2 linked regions of the Homo sapiens genome follow. The gene in region 1 interacts genetically with each later gene. Each region holds a gene or a part of one and is shown on either strand. Other genes may lie near its edges.

The links. A genetic interaction does not mean that the proteins touch.
Region 2: changes in DUT (region 1) and COPA together harm fitness less than expected from each alone (positive genetic interaction), as found in Homo sapiens cells (one large-scale study listed by BioGRID).

The regions. Positions count from the first base shown.
Region 1 is NC_000015.10:48,329,207-48,334,971, reverse strand, and holds the start of DUT (deoxyuridine 5'-triphosphate nucleotidohydrolase, mitochondrial isoform 1 precursor), read right to left. Parts: upstream 3,544-5,765; 5' UTR 3,457-3,543; coding exon 3,177-3,456; exon of another isoform or gene 3,116-3,176; intron 2,776-3,115; exon of another isoform or gene 2,721-2,775; coding exon of another isoform or gene 2,705-2,720; coding exon 2,566-2,704; intron 556-2,565; coding exon 464-555; intron 1-463. UniProt on the Homo sapiens protein: Catalyzes the cleavage of 2'-deoxyuridine 5'-triphosphate (dUTP) into 2'-deoxyuridine 5'-monophosphate (dUMP) and inorganic pyrophosphate and through its action efficiently prevents uracil misincorporation into DNA and at the same time provides dUMP, the substrate for de novo thymidylate biosynthesis.
Region 2 is NC_000001.11:160,332,580-160,337,747, forward strand, and holds part of COPA (coatomer subunit alpha), read right to left. Parts: intron 2,744-5,168; coding exon 2,663-2,743; intron 1,101-2,662; coding exon 1,024-1,100; intron 1-1,023. UniProt on the Homo sapiens protein: The coatomer is a cytosolic protein complex that binds to dilysine motifs and reversibly associates with Golgi non-clathrin-coated vesicles, which further mediate biosynthetic protein transport from the ER, via the Golgi up to the trans Golgi network.

The sequences.
Region 1 (5,765 bases):
AAGAACTGTCTGGTAACAACTGATCCGCTCCAGAAAAATCAAACCTGTTGACGTGTACTCCATTTTGTCCTAGCTCCTCCCAGTGCCTCTACAACACTGAAGAGTATCCCTTACCCTAACCCCATGGCCAAACAAGAAAAGGTTAAGTAGGCTTACACATTCTGGGACCAACAGGTCAGAAGTTTTACTCTCATAATATAAAATGCCATGTTCTGAGAACAGCCTTCTAGGCCAGTGTGAGCCTAAAAGCTCCAGTGAGGAAGGAGAAAAATAAAAGGGTCAAAAAGAGGCAAAGCAGAGATGTAAATAAAGCCTTTCAAAGAGTGCATTTGCTATCACAAATGGTGCTTCTTTTAGGACACAGCCCAAGCAATATTGCCTGCTTATTACCCCAAATGAAACATGAAGAATCTATCACAAAGGAGAACTTGACAAATAGTTACCTGTTTCTTAAATGACTTACCCACTCTTCCATAACACCCAGAAGGGAGCGCTATCTGAATGTCCGTTTTCACAACAGCTTTCTCCATAGGTGGTATTGTGTAATCATAGGCACTAAGAAAATATTGAAAGAAAATAACTGCAAATCTATTTATAAAATTGTTTTTATATTTTCTTTGTGACCAAGCATACAAAATTACTTTCAGTGTATTTAATGAATTAATGCAACTTTAGTTTCTAAAATCAACCTTGCTATGATGAATTACCAATTCATCTTAAAAGTTTATGAAGAAGGTAGAGGTGGCTATTTTATTATTAAAAAGACAGCTTTAGATAAAATAATTCTCCATGAATATTTTTGGTGGTGTGAAGAGATGTCAACATTGTAAATGTTTGCCCCTGAACAAAAGTTTATTGGAAACTGAGGTACTTATCAGCGTGAAAGGGCAGAAAGGCAAACTTTCAAAAGGTGGATGCTTTACAACCATAGTTTGAAAAGGAAAAAAATGAAGAAAGAACAAAGAAAAAAGGCCAAATACTACTAATAATACTAGCTATCATTGATTAAGCCTTTACTGTGTGCCAGGAACAGTTCTAATTGGTTTACATATATTAACCCATTTTATTCTCACAATGATCTGTGTGATTAGGGAAAATATGCAGAAGGAAAGGAGAAAAACGGGTGGACAAAATAAGAGATAAAGAACTGTGTTGTATCTGTCAGGCAGGGCTTGGTAGTTTACCAAGCTTAGGCTATGAATTTCCTGGCTGAGGGAGACAGCTGATCACCGTGAACGGCCCCTGGAGATGGACCTTGCTTAGGAACAGAATTCCTCTAAAGTCCACATAGCAAATGCTGCTACTCTTGATATTACTGTGGCCCTCTCCTGGGTAGAAATTTAAGAGATTTTACAATGAGCAGAACCGGAAGTTTACTTTGGAGACCTTAATTAACTCTGGTAAAGCAGTACTACCCCTTCTTTCACTGAAATCCCTCTTTAAACAGTTAAGCCCTAATTTATTGCTGATCCATTATTTCCATGTCAATTTCAGTATACAGAAAGTCACCTGTGTTTATTAGGAGTCTACTTAAGGTATCTTAAATCAAGGACTCCCCTAGGACTCAAGAAAGTGCTCCAAAATATACTTTGGAAAGGTCTAGTCAAACTATATCACTCTACTTTTATTCATCAAAATTAAGAGACTGTAGTTTTTCCAGCTACAATTGTCCATACCTACTTTCCTTTTCCTTTTTTTTCTGTTGCTATCATCAGGCACTACTTTCTCTTCTCCTGTGCTTAGACTAATAGTTCTCATGTTTGAATTATCTGAGATACTTTAAAATAAATCCCAATGCTTGGGATTTAGTATAAAATCTCCTTCCCTCTCAGCATTACTTTTCTCCTACCTTAATGGTTCTAAGAACTGGGCACAGTAGTCAGATGAAAAAAAAAAAGCCCAAAATTCGGGATAAAAAATTATATCATCTTCAAGCCTCTGGGGAAATCAATTCAGCTCTTCACAAACTCCTGCCTGTGTAAAAAGTAACACTTATCTAGTTAAGGATTGTTGTGAGGACTAAATACAACAGCATACGGAAAGTTTTTAGTACAGGTAAAACGTGCTGTAGAGATGAAAGTGTGGTAGATTACAGGCAGCTCTGCCTTTCGTTTTCAGATGCCTTCTCAAATTCCGCCCTGGGCCGGATGAATGTATAGAAAATAACTTTTTAAGGCAGATGCATCTTCGTTCATCCTTCTTAGGTATTTTCACGCTCACATCTAGGCTCTCACCTTGGTTTTTCTATTGAGCACAGCATCACCCTCGGGCCACTCGAAAGCCACCATGGGCCTTCCTCTCTATCTTCTATTTAGGAAGGGCACAATAAACGTTGCAAAGTAACGCCTTGCTAGACACCGTATAGCTATTTTACTTATTCTGCAGTCTTTGCCCAAATCTCTATTTAATTTATGCCAAAGATGAAAGCTAAAATTTTAAACACGAAAAAGGCAGAAATCCTATTTATAGCTAGTGTGTTCCTGTGATCTCTCCGGTGACTGTTTCTAGCTGTGGCAGCGGACGGCCGGCCCTTCCCAGCCTCCTCGCCGGCAGGTCCCCGCTCACCTGTACAGGTCGTAGCCCGCGGCGCGCGCGGAGCCCCGGGTGGGGGCCGTGGCGTGCTCGGAGAGCCGGGCAAAGCGGAGCTGCATGCCGCCCACCTCCGCAGGCCGGGCCCGCTTACTGGGTGAAATGGCGGGTGTCTCTTCAGAGCAGGGCATGGCAGAGCCAGAAGGCGAGCGAGGAGACCACCGGGGGAAGAGGAGAGCGCACGATGAGCGTCGCCGCAGGGAGCGCGCCAAAACCGAAATTTCCCGCCAGCCCCGCCCCACCCACCGCCCCTCCCCGGGACGAGTCCACAGTTCTGGCTGAGAGGGGAGGCGGGATTCACATTTTGGGTTTGAAGCCCTTCTCGGAAAGCAGGTTTGGGATGGGAAACTACTGGGTCCCAGTCAACTTTCCACATTCAGCGCGTGGGGCCAACTTTGAAGGGGAGCTTCTAGGGCGTCGCCCTCACACACTAGAAAGCCGCCCCCTCGCCAGGGGACCCTAATGGACCACCCCACCCCCCCCGCCCCCCGCGCGCAGAAGGACCGCTCGCCACCCTACTTCCCCCACAGCCTCAAGCCGCGTGGATTCCTTCCAGACGGCCGGAGCCCCTCCCCCGCCTTTCCTACCCGGCCCCGGCGCCGGGCTTCCCCCCGCCTTAGGAAGCTCGCCCTTCCAGCCAGCGGCCCCGACTGTACTGGCTCCGCGGCAGCCTTGGCTCAGGCGGCCAGCGCTGGACAGCGGCCGGGGAATCCCGTGCTGCGCGGCGCGGCCGAGGGGCGGGCCTGGCCCGGAGAGTACCGCGGCTTCGGCCCTCTGCCGTGCGCCTCGCGCGTTTTGCATCGCTGAGCGAAGCAGAGACGTAAGGAAATGGTAGCAGAGCGCGGGGCGAGGGCAGAGGGGAGTCATTTCCCCCAGAGTTTGGGCTGGTTGGGTCCTCGGCACCTCCGGACGTGCGCCAGGCTTCCACCCTGAAGACGCGCCCGTCCTGGGAACATGACCTCGGAAGCAGTCGCAGCCGCCGCCGGACGAGGGGCGTGGAGAGGCGGTGCCCCGGCAGCCCAGGGATGGCGCAGGCCCTGGGGCCCCAGGAAGACGGCGCCGTTGGCGTCTTGAGTCTTGCTGCCGCCTCTGGCTGCCTAGCCCTCTTGCTTTCGCTCTTCTTGTTTGCTCTGGCCCCCATTTTTCCGAGAGTGTACGCCAGGCCCGGGCCCTGCTCCTGGACTGATTTACCTGGGGCGGCACCGCCCGCAGCCATGACTCCCGGGCTCTGAGTTTAGCGGCGCCCTAAGCGCCGGAACCGCATCTCGGCGCCGGTGACAGTTATTGCGCCCGGGGCCGCTCCCCAAGCTGTGGGCAAGACACCGCGCCCGATTTCCTTTCAGCACCGAGTGTCAGACGTTGTAGTGTTTATTCGACCGGAGGCAGGGAGGGCGCTACTATCCTATCACAGGTTTGGGATAACCCAACAGAAACGCAGTGGGAACCCCTTGGCTAGGAGTCGAACAAGGATCCCGGGTCGTGGTAGTATAGTTTACAGTGGGGGATAAAGCAGTAACTTTCTAGATAGTTGTTAATAATTTTTTCTGAGCTGCAAGTATCTCCTTATTTCTCACAAAAATCTGCGAGCTGAATTGAATGGTTTTGAATTTTCAAAATTAAAAAAGCTGTGGGGCAGTTTTAGAGTATTATTGGGGAAATTTTACATTCGTTGCTATGCCTTTCCATACAGGCCCCCCCTTTTCGGTCTCCTTAACTGGTTCGTCTTCGTAGTTGGAATTCCTTTGCATGAGGCTATGGAATATACACTACCTTCTCTGGACGTTAACTATTAGCTACAGCTTGAGGACTCCCAAATTTATGCCTTTAGCAACACGATCCGAGCCCTGCAACTTTTCGACCTCATTTTGAGCCAACATTATTTTGCTCCCTTATTTTGTTGAAGTACTTTCTCCAGTTATTTACTTAAAATGTTCACATGAGAGACATACTATTTGATTCCTTGCTTGTACTAAGATGTAATGATTGTAACGACTTCATTTTCCTAGACCCAGATAAAAGTCTCGCTTCATTCATGAAACTTTTTACAATCAGTAGTGACCTCTGCCCCATCTTATCTCTTTTAACACTTACTATATCATTCATTAGTCGTTAGCCATATACTTTCATTGTGTAATCTTCTGATGTATATGCATTTTATCTCTCACATGAATTAGAGTCATAAACTTTTATGAATTCTTCAAAGCACTTACTTCAGTGTTTACACAAAAGTTACTTGTTTGGCTTATTACAATATCTAACACCAAGCAGGTTACCTTCTATTTTTTGTTGTTAATCTGTATACATAAAGTGTTTATTGTTACTTTTCAGCTGAGTTTATTTTAGACTAAAAGAGAAACGGCCATAATCTAACTGGCAAAAAGTAATAGGATTCTGAGCCAGTAAGCATTTAATAGAACGTTCTTTATGACAATAGAAATATAACTTGTTATGAACATACACCTTAAATGCAAGATACTGCAGTTAAGAACTAAACATGTTTCAACCATAATTTACTTCATAGTTTTTGTTTTTTTTTTTGAGACAGAGCCTTGCTGGAGTGCAATGGCTCGATCTCGGCTCACCCCAACCTCCTCCCAGGTTCAAGCAATTCTCCTCCTCAGCCTTCCAAGTAGCTGGAATTACAGGCATGCGCCACCACGCCTGGCTAATTTTGTATTTTTAGTAGAGATGGGGTTTCTCCATGTTGGTCAGGCTGGTCTCGAACTCCCGACCTCAGGTGATCCGCCCACCTCGGCCTCCCAAAGTGCTGGGATTACAGGCGTGAGCCACCGCACCCTGCCCTTCATGGTGTTTTCTTTATCAGACTATAGTTATCCTATCAGTCATGCTGATTAATTCAATTACCTAAGTCTAGTGCCAATTTGAACCTTCTGAAAATGCAAGTCAGTACTTGAAAAGCATGGTTGTTTTTCCTATCTTTGCCATTTTGGGGATTTCTCTCTCATTTTAACAAAGATACACATTGTTACTACTTTATGTCAGGTGTATTCTAAGTGCTTTAAAAAATATTAACTCGAGGCCAGGCGTGGTGGCTCACACCTATAATCCCAGCACTTTGGGAGGCTGAGGCGGGCGGATCACCTGAGGTCGGGAGTTCGAGACCAGCCTGACCAACATGGAGAAACCCCGTCTCTACTAAAACTACAAAATTAGCC
Region 2 (5,168 bases), on another chromosome or scaffold:
TACCAAATTAGAGGTGGAAGTCAACAGACTCCTAAACTAAATACCTTTCTCCATATTCAATAAATGCTTATCCAGTTTTACTTTTATGGAGACAAAGGCAGGTCATCCTACCAATTCTGAACTAATAATAATAAGCCCAGTCAGCTATTTTAACAATAGTTCTCTTCTTGCCTCTAATGCTTTAGTATTTAAATATTACTAATTTCAGGAGGACTAAGATTACATAGCTCTTCTCTCAAAAATATTTTAAAATATCAAAATAAATGTAATCTCAGTAATCCATACTGTAAATTATCTGTGAGATTTTAGTAGGGTATCCCTTTTAAAGGCCATCACTTTATTTTTTATTGTTATTATTTTTTTGAGATGGAATTTCACTCTGTTGCCCAGGCTGGAGTGCAGTGGCGCAATCTTGGCTCACTGCAACCTCTGCCTCCCCAGTTCAAGCGATTCTCCGCCTCAGCCTCCCGAGTAGCTGGGACTATAGGCACACGCCACCGCGTCCAGCTTATTTTTGTATTTTTAGTAGAGACGGGGTTTCACCATCTTGGCCAGGCTGGTCTCGAACTTCTAACCTCAGGTGATTTGCCTGCCTTGGCCTCCCAAAGTGCTGGGATTACAGGCATGAGCCATGGCGCCGGGCCAAGGCCATCACTTTAAATGGTCCCTAACTCTTCATGGAAAGTTCTATGTAAAGCTCCAGCTCCAAACACAAAATAAGACAAAGGTCTAGACCTTGACTCAGGTTTTATGGGAAAATAATTGAAAACCAGCTAAAAGTTCTTGTTCTAAAAGGCTATATGACTTCTCTTCCTGGTAAGAAATTATTGGAAGTCCAGATTCATATATGGGATTGCCTCTACATTTATTATTTTGCACTTAAAAGCATCCTACAAATACAATCAGTAATTAATCAGCCGACATAGTCCATTTGAGAAGGGAGAAGATTGTTCTAAGAGAAGCTCATTATGAAAAACTAGGAAAAATGAAGACTCTTTTCGAGCCCTCTGCCTCCTGCTTTACCAAACACAGGTTCTAGATTGCCAGTTCCACACTCGGATGGTCTGATCATCGGAGGCACTCAGAATCCAGGGATATTCCTGAAAGATATTCCAGACAAAGGCTTTAAACATTAAACAAATCTGTTCTATCAGGTTCTTGTAATCATTTTTCTCTAAAGAACTGCATTGCTTAACGGCTCAGCTACATTAGCAAAGGGGCTGCTGCTTTTGCTATCAGGTTAGCTGTCTCCTTTTCTCTACCACTCTAACAGCTTTTCTCAACTTCGGCACTTTCACCTATAAGACTTAAGAATGGAAGCCAGTTAGAGGCACAATACATTCTCAGAGGCAGATAGTGAAACATACATTTACATTTACTTCTATATGTGTGTGTGTGTGTGTGTGTATTTATATACAGTTAATCATGTAAATTAAGATCCTGTGAAAGACTCTTCTACCTTTAACTCTAGGATGGGAATATTATTTTATTGTCTGACTTCTTTCTGTCCAGTTTCAAAAAATTCCCAGGTCTCAGCAAGCAAAGCAGAAAGTAACATGTAAAGACAATTTAGCCTTTTTGGAGTCTATAAGATTGTTGAGAAAAGGAAGTATTTCTTATTTACACTTCCTTCTTACTACACTTGCTAAGCTTTGTGTTAAACACTGAAAATAGATGGTATTTCTATTTTCAATAGAGATAGTATCTCTACCTTCAGTATTTAGCACAAAGCTTAGCAAGTATAAGGCACACACATATTTAGTGAGCTGGTAAAATGAAAGAAAATAAGGTCTTTCGTAACTTTCCAGGTAGATGGCAACTTGTTCTAGGCAAGGGTCTTCAGGAAGTCCTTTATGGCAATGACAAATAATTCCTACTTAATAAGTTATCTTATTGAGTGGTTATCATTCTCAAATGTTTAAGCTGTAATTTTCTCATTCTCTCCTATCCTAGAATTTTTTAATTAAAAAAAGAAATAATATATACTCAACCAGTAAATTGTTTATTTCATCATATTCTTTCTAACTTAATTAAAGAGACTTAATTTACTGGCAATCAAAGAATAGTGTAAGTTAATGCTAATACACAGAACTATAAGGAGATCCTGTCAGGGTGCAACTGGATTCAGAGGTTGGGAGTCTGTAATCTGCACCTCACTATCTAAATCTACTATGTTACCTGGCAGATCAAAGAAAGTAGTAAGCCTGGCTAAGGGAACAGCCTCCACCAGACCCAAAAATCCTAGGATAGAGGGGTATGATTGTTAATACTTCGAAACGTTTGTTAGCTGATCAAAATGGCATCTTAGTCTGACCTTCTTCCAGACACACCTACTACTTACTAATAATACCCTACATGGGATTAGCTGGCAAACTTTTGTTTTTTGGTTCAGCAAATCTGAAATCAAATCCCTACTTTTCCCTACAGAGAAACAATGACTTCCCATAGAATCCACTGAATCCAATAAAATTAAATTCAGTATAATCCCAAGTGCTTCCTTTTGCAGAAAGAAAAAAAGCAGAAAGGACAATACCACACAGATTGTAGAAGAGCCACTCCAAAAACAACTCTATTATTAAAACATGGGTTCTCAAGGATCAAATAAAGATTACTATGGGGAAACTAAGAATGCTCCAAAACTAGCGCCACCATGACTACTTACATGATGAAAAAACGTGGTGCGAATATAATCTAAGTGCCCAAGCAATGTGAAAAGACAGCGCCGAAGCTTGTAATTCCAAACCTGCAAAGACAAATCAAACTAAGAAACAGAAATAGTTATTGAGCCTCTAAAAGGCTCAGAGAAATTGATATCTTTACAGAGATAGAAATATGTATATAAATATAGATTTATATACATTATTTGTATTTTGGCATTTCTAAATAGGTAGGAACCTTGGTAGAAAGCCTTGTTTAAGATTTGAGGGGAAAAGAACAAGAATGAAAATATAGGTCAGATAAACAACATGGGGTTGGGGTAGGATTAGGGAAAAGCTAAAGATAAAATTATTGAAGTTTTTCAGGCTGGGCGTGGTCACTCATGCCTGTAATCCCAGCACTTTGGGAGGTCGAGGCGGGTGGATCACAAGGTCAGGAGATCGAGACCATCCTGGCTAACATAGTGAAACCCTGTCTCTACTAAAAATACAAAAAATTAGCCAGGCGTGGTGGCATGTGCCTGTAGTCCCAGCTACTCGGGAGGCTGAGGCAGGAGAATCGCTTGAACTCAGGATACAAGAGGTTGCAGTGAGCCGAAATCATGCCATTGTACTCCAGCCTGGGTAACAGAGCGAGACTCAGTCTCAAAAAAAAAAAAAAAAAAAAAAAGTTTTTCTTTCTTTGGGAAGAAGCCATCTGCATTTAATAGCAGGAGATATTTATCCAGGGCTTGATTTGCAACTCTTTTTTCTACTGCAAAATTGTGCTCTTGGCTTGAATATAGACCCCTTAAGTGCTTTACCCATCACTTTTAAAAAGTATGACAGGCTGGGCACGATGGCTCATACCTGTAATCCCAGCACTTTGGGAGGTCAAGGCAGGGGGATCACCTGAGGTCAGGAGTTTGGGACCGGCCTGGCCAACATGGGGAAACCCTGTCTCTACAAAAATACAAAAAAAAATTAGCCGGATGTGATCCCAGCTACTTGGGAGGCTGCGGCAGCAGGATCACTTGAACCTGGGAGGCGGCGTTTGCAGTGAGTTGAGATCGCTCCACTGCACTCCAGCCTGGGCGACAGAGAGAGGCTCGGTCTCAAAAAAAAAAAAAAAAGTAGGACAGATAGATACCATGACTCCAAGGGAAACAATAATATAGGGCATCAGCTTCTTAGGCTCCTAACTTGATGGCAAACAACGCCCATACATGTGTGGTCTGTACTCACCTGTCAAGCAAACAGACCTTAACTTATTACATGGAAAATACTACATTGCTCAGTAAGCCTGAGCTAAGCAGAGAAACAATATCATATTCAGATGTGAAGTTGAGTCAACTACCAAAGTACTAGGCATCAATGAACACAACTGAAGACATGAAAACCAGGATCATAAATATAAAATAGCTTATCTTCCTCATTCAGAAAATCCCCTAAAATGTACAAAAATAAGAGACCAGATGCATTTTTCTTCTTATTTAATTTTTTTAAATTTCTTTTTAATATTTGTTTATAATCAATCTGGGCCAGCTTGTTACTATTTCTAATTTTTAACTTTTCTTCAGTAAATTATAAAAATTTCATTTCCTATAACAAGTCCAGACAATCCAAAAGTATGATCTTCCAAACAAGAATGCTGAGTTCCTTAAAGGCAGGGTTCTTGTCCATCATGCTCAACACTATACCCTTACCACCTAACACAGTGCCTGACATTAGGTAAGTGCTCAGTAAGCATTATGTATGGAAATAAGAATAACATGAAAAGTTAAGGTATTCCAATACCTTTGCCTCTATCTATTCAATCAGCTACATATAAATACACATGTACACAGTAGAGTTTCACATAAAAATTAGACCATACCATAAACACTATTCTTTAACTGACTTTTTTCCCCTTATAGAGTTCAGTGTTTTAAACTTTCATATTTCTAGTTTCAAAATGTCTTGACTCCTTTAATGGCCTAAGTCAAGCTCCAAAACTGTAAATCCTTAAAAACTTATAGGGGTTTTAGATGAATACTCTGACCATTTGCTGGGCTCCTTGTCTTACTCTTTGTCAACGAGGATTATAACTAATGCTACATTTATCTGGATATAGCAAGCAATAAGATGGTCCACAGACATGACTTTTCTAGATAATCCCCCTTTTTATGGAAAAATGTTCAAGTTTATTAGTCATCAGAGAAATTAATTAAAACCACCGAATGGGCCGGGTGCGGTGGCTCACGCCTGTAATCCCAGCACTTTGGGAGGCCGAGGCAGGAAGACGACCCGAGGTCGGGAGTTCAAGACCAGCCTGACCAACATGGAGAAACCCCATCTCTACTAAAAATACAAAATTAGCCGGGCTTGGTGGCGCATGCCTGTAATTCCAGCTACTCGGGAGGCTGAGGCAGGAGAACCACTTGAACCCGGGAGGTGGAGGCTGCAGTGAGCCGAGATCACGCCACTGCACTCCAGCCTGGGCAACAGAACAAGACTCCATCGCAAAAAACAAACAAACAAACAAACAAACAA